Homo sapiens: one gene and its partners. The protein of the gene in region 3 purifies or fractionates together with the protein of the main gene of each other region. This does not show direct contact. Each region holds a gene or a part of one and is shown on either strand. Other genes may lie near its edges.

Region 1 (3,500 bases), on a different chromosome or scaffold from region 3:
TAACATACAATAACACTAATGATAGCTGGAACTTAAAAAAAAGCACAAAATCTCATAATGTTTTAAGGAAGTTTACAAATTTGTGTTGGGCCACATTCAAAGCCATCCTGGGCCACATGCAGCCCATGAGTTGGACAAGCTTGCTCTAGATCCTCACCTGAGGGATTTCTGCTCAAATGGGACAGCCTCTAAGAACTTTCCCTAAGCAGTCCCCACTCCAGTCATTCTCTCTCCCCTTATAATGTTTTATTTCCTTCATAGCACTACTTACTTATTTAAGTCTGTCTCCCTTACTAGAATGTAAGCTCCATGTGGGCAGAAAGTTTGTCAGTTTTGTCCACTGTTACATCTTGAGTGTTCAATAAATATTGGGTAAACTAATGTATGGAAATGAGGGACATACAGCAAGTAAAAGTACTCGATTCCTTTCTGAAAATCTCAATACTTTCCACTAATTCCATTCTGTTTTTATCTATATATGAAGTCCTCTCAACTTCATTTGCAGATTCCTGGTAGCTTCTAACGCCATGGAATGGTTAAATCCGTAATTCCTAAAGCTGGCTTCACATCAGAATCAACTAGAGTGCTTTCAATAAACTGCCTTTCAAACCTGTAATAAGGCACAGGGCCCAGGTGATTCTGACATAGCTCATCCAATTTTCTAGATGAGGGGTTGGCAAACTCTTTCTGTAAAGGGCCAGATAGAAAATATTTAGGCTTCGTGGGCCGTATGGCCTCTGTTGTAACTACTAAACTCTGCCATATGGCACAAAAGCAGCTACAGACAACATGTAAACACATGGACATGGCTGTGTACCAATACAAATGGTGGGGCCAGATTTGGACCAGGCTGTAGTTTGGCAACTCTTGCTGGACCATGTTTCTCAAAAATTAATGTGCATACAAACCATATGAAGAGCTTGTTAAAATGCAGATTCTAATTCAGAAAATCTGGGGTAGGGCCTGAGCTGAAGCACTGCTAACAAGCTCCCAGGTGGTGCTGATGGTATCAGCATATGGACCAGCAAGGCATAACTTTAGCACTGGGTGCCAAACTTTACTGAATGCCACTATATCCTGTGAGGAATGATTTGACTGTTTTTTAATATGATTTCACATAATATGATCATACATTTTACAGGAAGAAGAATAAAGAACCTTGTTATATAGTTAGATTTTGTAACACAAGGCAACTAGGAACAATACTCTAAACACATTTTATGGTTCATAAAGAAATAAACTTGGCAAAAACTCCATTCAAAAATTCCTCATTAATAATGAAAGGACAGATATTCATTCACACACCTACCTATAAATAACATGGAATGCTTTCGTGCAAATTTCAGGCCTTCATTTCTATCGACTTCACGATTTTCCTAAAATATAAATGCAATGATTAAGAAAGGCTACCAAAATATAGAACCAAAATGCCAAGTGTCTGCCTTCTTACCTTATCGATTTTATTTCCAACTAGCATGTTTACTATGTCATTTCTTGTACAGTATGTTTCCAATTCATTTAACCAATTATCCAGTTTAACAAATGTATCTCTTCTTGTGACATCATAAACTGAAATAAAAGGAGTCATTTGTTAAATAAGCATTAAAGAAAGAAGCAATGGCGTATTTCTGATATGTAGCTAGGAGTTAGCATTACTAAGCAATATAGACAAGTCTTTTTTTTATTGTCTTCAACGATTAATATTGAGTGTCTACTGATCCAAATGGAAGAAACAAGTGTTTTTTTTTTAAAGCATACACATTTCAATCCTATTAACATATACTGTCACAGAAATGAAATTATATCCTGTGTAATAAGTGAAAACACATTTAATACCCATTAAAGCAAAACAACAGCTATTCCCATTCATAATGATGAATGAGGTCTATCCAAAAACCAGAGTGTTTAGATTCAAATCTGTGGCAAAATATTAAAAAAAAAATACATGAATGTAAACATCTATGACCCCATTAATTTGTTTATTACAAGAACCAAAATTTACAGCTTTGAAAAAATTGTAGTACAGTTAGTAGATGGGTTCCTGGTGGTCTTCCTGTTATCACTTTCATCTTATGTCATTCTGCATTATAACAAAAACCTTATTAAAGTGTTTTATAAACTCAAGAGATGCTGAACCAAAAGGCTGTCACTACCAAGCCATAATATTTAAAAAAAGAGAATTCTACCTATTAATACAATTGATCAATATTCATTTTAAACAGTTTCCCAGGAATATCAAGAACAAGCACTTTTCAACAAATTACACTGAGAATCCACATCTGGTTTCTAAATTTTGTTTGATTATAAATCAATAGTGTTAAGTGCTTTGTGATATTTTTAGGACTAATAAAGCAGATTCTACTAATCAACAAATACTTTTCGTCCTTTATAAACTACAGCAAATATTAATATGCTGATAACAGAAGCCCAGTTTCTGTAATACTCCAAGACAGTCCAACATATGCTGATTAATCCTCAATTACGTTCTCATTGACATGTGTTTTCAAACCAAATAAATTAGCCTTGTCTATTTTTTAAGTGCTAGACAAGACTAAAATCAAAAGTTTTAATATTCATTAATATTACATGAAGTTAATACAACTACAAGTTACATAAAAGTAGCTCTAACGAGAAGTAAAACAAAGACATATTAACTTTCACAGACTAGGACAATCAGAAACTCCAATAAATATTTTTAAATAGTACATTAAAGTAAACACTTACCTAATATAACACCCTGTGCACCTCTATAATAGCTGGGAGTTAATGTTCTAAACCTCTCTTGACCAGCAGTATCCTAAAAATGATCATTATTATTAAATTAAACAAAGTATAAATAGACCTTCAATATACTAGTTTAAGAGTAGAAAGTCAAACAGCATTACTAAAAATAGTATTAATGCATGAGCTCATTAAAAAACTGGAACTTAAATAAGATGTGTTCGCTTACTGACAAGTGTCACAAAATAAAATTATTTATAAATACTGATCTCTAGAAAAATGAAACTATGTAAAGGTTTTCTGCTGTTTTGAATTTAAGACTTTTATCATACATGAAATGAAACCCATGGTTCTAAACTCCAGCTGCACAATGAAATTTTCTGGGAATCTTGAGTCTAGCTTCCAAAAAATTTCTGCTTAATTGGTCTAAGGTAATGACAGGAATTTTTTTTTTTTTAAATCTTACCAGGTGCTTTTAATGTAGAATCAAGGCTGAGAACCACTGATTTGAAGAAAATTATGGGATGTCTTACTTTAGGTAACAGATTTTTAGGTTGGGCTCTTTTAAGTGTTTTCTATGTATCTCCTTTTGAGAAAATGCATATAACCAAGCCATTCTTTATTACATGTTATTTCTGACTCATGTTAGGGTTAGTGAACAATGTACACTAGGTAGAAAATGTAAATTTCATAAAGCAGGGACTCATCTGTTTAATCACCAGTTTAACCATTGTGCTGAGACCAATTCTTGAAAAAAGGCAGTTGCTCAGAATTTGTTG
Region 2 (2,969 bases), on a different chromosome or scaffold from region 3:
TGTCCCAAGGCAGGGGTTGCCCTTTTCTCTGTAAAGGGCCAGATAGTAAACAGTTTTTTGGGTTTTAGGGCCATAAGGTCTGTGGCAGCTATTAAGCTCTGCCATTATAGTGGGAAAGTATGGCTGAGTTCCAATAAAACTTAATTTTTAAAACTGGTTCCAGGCTGCATTTGGTGGGAGGGCCACAGTTTGCTGGCTCCTGTCCCAAGGCAAAGGTATAGTTAGGAGTGAGGACGCAAAAGCAGAACTTAAGATGCTTTTCTTAATATGTCCTATTACTGCCTCCACCAGGGGATGTATCTTTCAAGTTGCAGCCCCTCTCCCCCACCCCCCAACAATACCCCCATCAAAAAAAGAGTCTTTGACTCCCTAGGAGTTCCTCACATTTGTTGTTGTTATTTTTCTGGATTCTGTCCATGTCTGCTTTAAAGGTCTTCCCAGAGAGGGAGAAGTAAATGCTAATTCACCATCTTGGCAGGAATGGGAAACCAGGTCAATAATTGTTTTCTTTCGTGTTTTATTTATATATTTTTGGCAGCAAAATTGTGTTTATTAAAAAAAAAACCTGGACTATGAACACACTTCAATGCTTTGAAGAACTCCAAGCCAAATAAAAAGACCAATCAATATTAAAAGCAGTATAACTGGTTACTTTCTTAAAAATACATAAAAAGAATCAAATGCAACAGTGTAGGAAGACAATCACACCCATGTCAGAAGTCACAACTTCTTCCAAATAAAGAATATGACCCATCTGCCATATTGAATCAATATTTATTTCAGGACATGCCATGTCAAAATAAAACAAAGAGTCAACCCTTGCCTTTAACAATTATATTGTATTATAAAAGCACTTTACAACTCCATCCCATCTTTAAGTATAAGTTACTGGTATGTGGGCTAATGATTATCTGTAAGCATTTCTCTATTCAGATCCATAATCCAAGTGCTCTCTGAATATTACAAGGTGACAATAAGTGGGAAGTGGAGGAGGAAGAGGAAAGAGAGGGGACTAAGGTTCTCCCAGTTTAAGGTTTTGTTCCAATGAGGGGATGAGGAAGTATGAAGATATTTTTGTTGTCTTTTCATCTTTATACTGTGTTAAGTAATGCTTACAACATAAATTCAGCAGGCTTTTCCTGAGCTGTAACTCAGAAGTTTTCGTCCTGCAAACAATGTATTTACAAATGTGTTTATTAGCTTACACAGCAATCTCACAATAACTAGTAAAGATTAAAAGGGCACACTCCTAGTATATTTGTTTGCAGTGTTTTAAGGGAAATACATATTGCCATGGTGAAGCTCTAAATAGATTCAACGAAACATCTGAAGATTGAAAGTTGTTAAAAAAAAAAAAGGCAAAGAAATAAATATCACCAAAGAAAAAAGATTAATTGTAGCTTAAATATAAAACTAAATCACCAGTTAATTAAACTATACAGATCTAATACAAACCAAAACCAGCCTGAAAGACCCAACCTTAAAAAATGCTAAAAAATAAGGCATAAATCTGCATAATATTGAGTTTTATTTCCATTCTCTCCTTTCCCTCTACTATGTATGCTTTACCTGATCTGCCTCTAGGGGCTTACAAGAAAACGGTTTCCGGTTTCCGTCTTCAATTTGACCTCAAATGTCCTGAGCAAAGTTTTTGTTATTCTGCTGAGGGTTCTTTTGTTGGTAAGCTTTAGACATCATTATTTCTACTAATTCAGTAGTTTTGATCGTAGCGCCAAATTTAAATTCTTCCACTGGTTCTTCTGGAAGGAATTAAAACTTTTACAGTGCCTTGCCTGCACAGTATTATGTTTTTAAAAAAGAAAACCCAAGCAAAATCTATTGCTTAAAGAGGTTTCTTATTTTTTAAACAAACAGAATAACTCTTGACAATTTTAAAACCTTGGGAGAAACAGTTCATTAGAACTTCATTTTCTTACCGTGAAGAATTAAATACTAAAAACCTGTTCTGAAGCACTTGGTTAATTTTCTCTCCCAGAGTCTAATAAAGCACATGTGAAAGAGCCATTTGTTTTAGTCAGAAATACATCTTATGTTCTTCTACTTCTAAGTACTCAGTATGTTCTTTAGGACTCATTTTGAAGATGCACCAGGAGCCTTTTCTCATTCAAGCACTGCCTACCATGATGGCTGAATTTTGACCTCAAAGAAGACCGTAATTTATATCAGTGCTCAAGAATAATTTTGGACATCTTGGTCCGTAGCCTACAGCAAGTGGTATCTGTAAAATTAAAGGATAATTCCAATGGGCTTGGTAGAACTGCTGCTTTGCCATCTCTTGTTTGTTTTGAGGAAGTCGGGGGAGGCTAGGTAAGAATAGGGTAATAGGGAATGGGGGTAAGTGAGAGGTGAGAAAAGCAAGGAGAGATAAAGTAGGCTGTGAACATACCGCTCGTTAACCAAGCCATACTCATACTGTTGAGATTTCCATCATTTTGAAGTACATTATCATAACATTAAAAAAGAAAAAAATGTTAAGAAAATGTATCTAATTTTTAAAGTTATCACTGGAATATGCTGAAATATTTTGGCTTTTTGTAAAATATAAATAATGAAGACACTGACTTTTGTTGTGCTTGTGAAGCTAATAGATCATCTCCACGAGACAGGCAGCAATGATGAATTGCAATACGTTATTACTGAAGGGAAAAGGTTCAAGCCAATATTCACACTGCAGTCAATGAAAGAGTAAGGGGGCCAAAGCAGTGAGCTTCTGAAGAAGGTTGAAGATGACATGGGAGATTAGCAGGAACAGCCTCCTTCACTGACTGGTTGCTCCTGAGGCTTTTCCAGTTTTATGTCAATCACTGAAACAAAAGTTAAGAAGCCATAAATGGGAAAGTACAATTTCAATTCTTCCAAACACTAGCATTTCTGGGATGGCCCTTATATTCCTATCTGTCTTCAGAGCCTACACACTCACTATTTTCTACATAGCCGCCTCACCATAT
Region 3 (3,500 bases):
CTTGCCAGAACAGTCTGTCCACTTAGCTTCCCTCTGAGAAACTCACAGCATCCCAGGCAAAACTGCTCCCCGCAATGAGGACCCCCATTCCCCTTCTCTGCTGACACTGTGCTCCAAGAAGCCTGTGGGACCCACACAAGCAGCCCAGTCCCCACCCTAATGTTTGCTCACAATTAGTGGAAACAAAAAAACAGAAATCACACTTCACTGACGCTGCCGTTCTCTGTACATCAAGAACTTAAGGTTCTGGGCCAGGCGCCGTGGCTCACACCTGGAATCCCAGCACTTTGGGAGGCCAAGGTGGGCGGATCACCTGAGCTCAGGAGTTCATGACCAGCCTGGCAAACACAGCAAAACCCCGTCTCTACTAAAAGTACAAAAAAAAAATCAGCCGGGTGTGGTGGCTGGCACCTGTAATCCCAGCTACTCGGGAGGCTGAGGCAGGAGAATCACTTGAACCTGGAAGGCAGAGCTTGCAGTGAGCTGAGATCGCGCCATTGCACCCCAGCCTGAGCAACAGAGCGAGACTCCCGTCAAAAAAAAAAAAAAAAAAAATGCTGGGCGCGATGGCTCACACCTGTAATCCCAGCACTTTGGGAGGCCGAGGAGGGTGGATCATGAGGTCAGGAGTTCAAGACCAGCCTGACCAACGTGGAGAAACCCCGTCTCTACTAAAAATACAAAATTAGCCGGGCGTAGTGGATGCCTGTAATCCCAGCTACTCAGGAGGCTGAGGCAGGAGAATCGCTTGAACCCGGGAGGCGGAGGTTGCGGTGAGCCGAGATCACACCGTTGTACTCCAGCCTGGGCAACAAGAGTGAAACTCCGTCTCAAAAAAAAAAAATTTTTTTTTAATGTAGCCGGGCATGGTGGTGCATGTCTGTAGTCCTAACTACTTAGGAGGCTGGGGTGGGAGGATTGCTTGAACAAGAGAGGTCAAGGCTGCAGTGAGCCGTGATTGTGCCACTGAACTCCAGCCTGGGCAACAGAGCAAGACCCTGACTCTAAAAATTAAAAAAAAGTTAAAAAAAATTAAAAGAGCTTAAACAAGAAGCCGACTGCAAACAAAGGCCTCTCCATGCAGCTGCGCTGGGACGCGGGTTCTCTGTCCGATCACTGCACAGCAGCCCACTGGACAAATGGACCCATTCTGGCAAGAAGCACTTGGGACGGGCTACTAGGAGCATCCTCGTCTGTGTCTACGTGCAGGAGTGGAACTGCCCAGCCCTGGGACACGCATGCTGAGCCCCAGCCAACGTCACACCGACCTGTGCTCCCACAGCCCTGCCCCGGCTCTGTGTGGGTGACTGTCCCGTCCCTGCAGTTGAGCCCACGTGGTCCCGGGGTCTCCATTCCCCTCCCAATCTGCAGGACTTCACTACCATGAACCGTCCTCACCCCCAGCATCCCTGTCCCCACAGCTCCAAGGCCGCAGGAGGAGGCGATATCTAATCTTCCCCCCACGTAAACACCTGTCCCTGCGTAAATGCCTGAGGCTGGCTGCTTATTCTTTTTTTTTTTTTTTTAGATGGAATCTCGATCTGTCGCCCAGGCTGGAGTTTAGTGGCATAATCTCGGCTCACTGCAACCTCCACCTCCCAGGTTCAAGGGATTCTCCTGCCTCAGCCTCCCGAGTAACTGGGATTACAGGCGCCTGCCACCACGCCCAGCCGCTTCTTATTCAAACACTGGGAGCTCCACGTCAGACCAGTGAAGTCAGAGAATCCTGAAGTCCAAGTTCTCAGCTCCTCAGCCAACTCAAGGGCAGCCAGGCAGGAGCCACCCCTGCAGAGGCACCCACGGTTCGTTCCTGTCACTGACTGTTCCCAGGCTGGAAATTCCTGACGGTACAAATGCAAACAGATTCCGGCCTGAAACTGTCTAGTGAGACCTTTCTTTCCTTTTCCTTTTCTTTTTTTCGAGATAGAGTCTCGCTCTGTCAGCCAGACTGGAGTGCAATGGCATGATCTTGGCTCACTGCAAGCTCTGCCTCCTGGGTTCACACCATTCTCCTGCCTCAGCCTCTGAAGTAGCTGGGACTACAGGCGCCCGCCACCACGCCTGGCTAATTTTGTTTTTTTTTGTATTTTTTTAGTAGAGACAGGGTTTCACCATGTTACCCAGGATGGTCTCGATCTCCTGACCTCGTGATCCACCCACCTAGGCCTCCCAAAGTGCTGGGACTACAGGCGTGAGCCACCGCGCCCGGCCTCTTTTCTTTTCTTTTTTGAGAGGGACTCTTACTCTGTCGCCCAGGCTAGAGTGCAGTGGCACAATCTCAGCTCACCGTAGCCCCCACTTCTTGGATTCAAGGGATTCGCATGCCTCAGCCTCTCGGGCAGCTGGAATTATAGGCATGCGCCACCAAGCCTGGCTAATTTTTGTACTTTTAGAAGAGATAGGATTTAGGCCGGGCGTGGTGGCTCACGCCTGTAATCCCAGCACTTTGGGAGGCTGAGGCAGAGGGATCCCGAGGTCAGGAGATGGAGACTATCCTGACTAACACTGTGAAATTCTGTCTCTACTAAAAATACAAAAAATTAGCCAGGCGTGGTGGCGGGCGCCTGTAGTCCCAGCTACTCAGGAGGCTGAGGCAGGAGAACGGTGTGAACCCGGGAGGTGGAGCTTGCAGCGAGCCGAGATCGCGCCACTGCACTCACTCCAGCCTGGGCGACAGAGCAACACTCTGTCTCAAAAAAAAAAAAAAAAAAAAAAAAAAAAAAAAAAAAAAAAAAAAAAAAAAAAGAAGAGACAGGGTTTCACCATGTTGCCCAGGTTGGTCTCAATCTCCTGACCTCATGTGATTCGCCCGCCTTGGCCTCCCATAGAACTGGGATTACAGGCATGAGTGACCGTGCCCGGCTGGGTGCAACCTTTCAGAGGTCATGCGGGTGACAGGGAGCGACAAAAAACAAGAAAATAAAGCACTTCGCCGAGGCTGACTTGGGTCACAGAGGGCCAAACGGTCCCGGGAAAATGGGTGGGCTCTTCACACCTTCTCATAGAAGTCTTGGAGGTGGGTGTTTAATGAGCATTTTTTGTTAGTAGCAAAACAAGACAAAGCAAACACCAAAAGAATGCCAACCTACGTGCCTGTCAACAGTAGAAACAAACACCTTATTGATGGAGCTGAAGCTACGATGGAAATGAGGGGCTCAGTCCCAGTGTCAAAGGGACGGACCCCAAGCCCAAACCCACCGGAGCGGGGGAAGACTGAGGGACGAATCACAGACAGAAACGCACGACTCGGCTCCACCATGCGCTGTCAGCTGTGCGGGAAGCACCACGTGTAGAAATAAAAGCATGAAAGTGCCTGAAAGAGGGAATTCCAGCACGTGCTCCTCTCATCTCGGGGACGGGCCCCAGGGGAAAGCAACAGCACCTTCAGGTGCTGGAACCCAGCTGAGCAGCCAGGGGGTTCCGGGGTCCTCCCTAAGTAGTTGTGAGAGATCACAGCCCGGGGTCCTTCCTAAGTAGTTCCGAGAGTTCAAGGTTTACAT
Region 4 (3,500 bases), on a different chromosome or scaffold from region 3:
TCTTCAGCCTCATTCAGCAAAATAGGAGTCTTCAAAAGACAGTCCTGGCCGAGTGTGGTGGCTCACGCCTGTAATCCCAGCACTTTGGGAGGCCGAGGTGGTTGGATCACCTGAGTTCAGGAGTTCGAGACCAGCTTGACCAACACAGTGAAACCCTGTCTCTACTAAAAAACAATACAAAAATTAGTCGGGCTTGGTGGCGCATGCCTGTAATCCCAGCAACTAAGGAGGCTGAGGCAGAAGAATCGCTTGAACCTGGGAGGCGGAGGTTGCAGTGAACTGAGATTGCACCACCGCACTCCAGCCTGGGTAACAAGAGCAAAACTCCATCTCAAAAAAAAAAAAAAAAGTCCTACTTTACGCTTCTTTTAATAAGGCTAAAAAGATATGTGGCCAGTCTCTTAATTAAATGCAGTATGACAGTGCTTCCTTGAATCATATTAATCCATATTGGAAGTAATCTTATGTCTGCTAGTCACATGGTGAAATCTGACATCTCACAAAATCTGGTCCTGAATTTTTATTTGTCTTCTGCATGTCTCCACTGAGTTGTGAGGCCTCACATGTGTCACTGCCAGTGTGTTGTGAGTTTTTTCCACACAGCCTTCAGCTGCTTATTCCATTCCACTGTAATCCTTATATTTAGTTATGATTGTCCTCAAAATTACCTACAAATTTGACTCATCTATTTCATATAGGAAATGCTATATCGCTTAAAAGTTTTAAAAGCCTTTAAAGAAGACTAAGTGCTTAAAGGCTTTGTTATTCTTAAAAGGTTAGCCAGTTTTCAGAAGGAAAACTTCTTCAGACCAGCAAAGTGTTTTTTGTGTGTGTTTGCAGTATAGGTGGGGCGGCGGGGTATCGTATGTTTAGTAAAATCAAAAGCTTTTGAGAGATCAAGTCCTTGATGTAGAAAAGTCAGCCTTCAAAAAACAGTACTGTCCAGGTAGATAATCTTAATTGTGTCAAAGAACACTATGATTAGGGAAACAAAGTGTCTGGTAAACAGCCTCTACAAAGACAGACTTTGTTCTAAGTGAGAGTTAAGGAAGAAAGAATATAAGCTTTTAATTGATATTTGTTTTCCTTCAGCCAGTGGGCTGTTTACTTACAGCAAATACCAAGTGATTGCAGGGGTTGGAAGTGATAGATTAATTTACTCACTACTCACTGTATTAAATTGTATACACCAACCTGGGTTTTTTTGTTTGTTTTTGTATTTGACTAATTGTTTCTGACTTTACAATTTCAGTCTTGGAACTTTGCCTTCCCGGCTTCTTTGGTTTACAGGGTTGAAAAAGAAAGCAAAAGTATCTAACGACCTTTGTAAAACATCTTTTAAGTGAGAACCTTTTTCATAAGGCAGTTGTTTCCTCAGTGGGTAGATGGTTTTTCCTGTAATCTGGCATTGTGTAAGGAAATAAGAAGCAGCTTGTCTTTGATTCTTGGTGTGATGGCATGAAAAGTAAATGTTCTGGTGGGATCCCCAAACGTGTTAGTAGGCCGCTATATTATAGCTGTTGTTTATTAGATTAGTATCATTTGAGGGGCTTTTCTGTAGAAGATTTAATTTGAAGATTTATCTTTCAAATATACTTTGGCTTTTTCACTTTTATTTTTTAGGCTGTGCGTGTTACAAAACCCAAAATCCCAGAAGCCATAAGAAGAAATTTTGAGTTAATGTGAGTAATATGCATGGGATCCCAATATTTCTGTTTAGGGCTGTCTGCATATTAATATTCCAGTCTAGAGGAAACATGTGAGACAATACACTCTGGGGTGGAGTATGTGTCTTATCTTCTTTACTCTTACTCTAGTAATATTGCCTATTCTTGTGTCTTAATTCCCACTAGACTCTTACTAGTGTTCTCTTTATGTATGGACATTTCAGGAGCAGTTTCAGTGGCTAAAGATGCAGTTTGCTGTAAAACTATTGCTGGAAGCTTAAGGAGCTATAATTTTATATGAATAGTACCTTGAATTAAATATTTAATAGAGGAAAGAGTCCTGAAGCCGTTAGGGTTGAAGAGAGTGCTCATATTTTGTTTCTGTGTTGTAATGGTAGGAATAGATACCTTGTTGGTATAAAGTTTGGTTTTCCATTGTATGTGATTGTATATCTAAAATTAGACCTGGTTCTTTATAATGTGCCTCTAGGGAAGCCTTGCTTCTGTTGACTCCTGGTAGTCTTCTCTTTTATGTATCCAGGGCTGACTGGGAATGAGAAGACATGAAATTAGTTTCTGACAGGATCCCTTTTAGGGGAATACTTACTGTGTTTGAAATGGCAATATTGTTTTCGTATGACTGGTACTGAAAAGAAGAAATAAAAGTCTTTAGGAAATTTGGCTGATGTGTTAAAAGGGAAAGTATAAGACGCTGGAAAAATAAATTTGCACAAGTCAAGGATACCACAGATGTATAAATACTGGAAGTCCAAGGAGCAGTAATACTACTTTATGAGGTTGTTTACTTCTGAGTCCTTTTTGTTACCATGCAGATTTTTATTGTTTTTTTCTTCTTTTATATTTTCCTTTTCCCTCATACCTTCTCTGAGCTCATACAGAGTTTTATTTCTCTTTTTCTTAATTTTTTTTTTTTTGAGACAAGGTCTTGCTCTGTTGCCCAGACTGCAGTGCAGTGGCACAATCACGGCTCACTGCAGTCTCAACCTCCCAGGCTCAAGTGATTAAGCGATCCTCCCACCTCAGCCTCCTGAGTAGTTGGGACTACCAGTGCATGCCACCACACCTAGCTAAATTTTGTATTTTTCATAGAGACGGAGTTTTGCCCTGTTGCCCAGCCTGGTCTCAAACTCCTGGGCTCAAGCAGTCCTCCTGCCTTGGCCTCCCAAAGTACTGGGATTACAGGCTTGAGTCACCACACCCAGCCTGTTTTCTCTTTTTCATTGTAGACAAAGAACTCTTCTTTTAAAAGTATAAAATGTAGACTGCCAGGCTGGGTAGATTATGGATGTGATCCACTTATTGAAAAAATATTTATAGGCGGGCTGTGGTGGCTTATGCCTATAATCATAGCACTTCAGGAGGCTGAGGCCGGCGGATCACCTGAGTTCAAGAGTTTGAGACCAGCCTGGCCAACATGGTGAAACCCTGTCTCCAGTAAAAATAGAAAAATTAGCTGGACATGGTGGCAGGCACCTATAATCCCAGCTACTGGGGAGGCTGAGGTAGGAGAGTCGCTTCAACCGGGGAGGTAGAGGTTGCAGTGAGCCGAGACCACGCCATTGCACTCCAACCTGGGCAAAAGAACGAAACTCTGTCTCAAAAAGAAAATTTTATTAAACTGTCAGCATGTCTTAGGCTTTAAATATGATTGCTTAGGCTGGGTGCGGTGGCTCATGCCTGTAATCCCAGCACTTTTGGGAGGCCAAGGTGGGCGGATCACGAGGTCAGGAGATCGAGACCATCCTAGCTAACACAATGAAACCCCGTCTCTACTAAAAATACAAAAAATTAGCCAGGCATGGTGGTGGGCGC

What was found.
Region 1: the proteins of SLC35E2B (region 3) and RAB18 purify together in Homo sapiens (affinity purification with mass spectrometry; one large-scale study listed by BioGRID and IntAct). This does not show direct contact.
Region 2: the proteins of SLC35E2B (region 3) and RAB6A purify together in Homo sapiens (affinity purification with mass spectrometry; one large-scale study listed by BioGRID and IntAct). This does not show direct contact.
Region 4: the proteins of SLC35E2B (region 3) and ERLIN1 purify together in Homo sapiens (affinity purification with mass spectrometry; one large-scale study listed by BioGRID and IntAct). This does not show direct contact.

The regions. Positions count from the first base shown.
Region 1 is NC_000010.11:27,531,804-27,535,303, reverse strand, and holds part of RAB18 (ras-related protein Rab-18), read right to left. Parts: intron 2,798-3,500; coding exon 2,725-2,797; intron 1,570-2,724; coding exon 1,451-1,569; intron 1,377-1,450; coding exon 1,310-1,376; intron 1-1,309. UniProt on the Homo sapiens protein: The small GTPases Rab are key regulators of intracellular membrane trafficking, from the formation of transport vesicles to their fusion with membranes.
Region 2 is NC_000011.10:73,675,138-73,678,106, forward strand, and holds the end of RAB6A (ras-related protein Rab-6A), read right to left. Parts: intron 2,826-2,969; coding exon 2,761-2,825; 3' UTR 501-2,760; downstream 1-500. UniProt on the Homo sapiens protein: The small GTPases Rab are key regulators of intracellular membrane trafficking, from the formation of transport vesicles to their fusion with membranes.
Region 3 is NC_000001.11:1,679,296-1,682,795, forward strand, and holds part of SLC35E2B (solute carrier family 35 member E2B), read right to left. Parts: intron 1-3,500. UniProt on the Homo sapiens protein: Putative transporter.
Region 4 is NC_000010.11:100,165,530-100,169,029, reverse strand, and holds part of ERLIN1 (erlin-1), read left to right. Parts: intron 1-1,623; coding exon 1,624-1,682; intron 1,683-3,500. UniProt on the Homo sapiens protein: Component of the ERLIN1/ERLIN2 complex which mediates the endoplasmic reticulum-associated degradation (ERAD) of inositol 1,4,5-trisphosphate receptors (IP3Rs).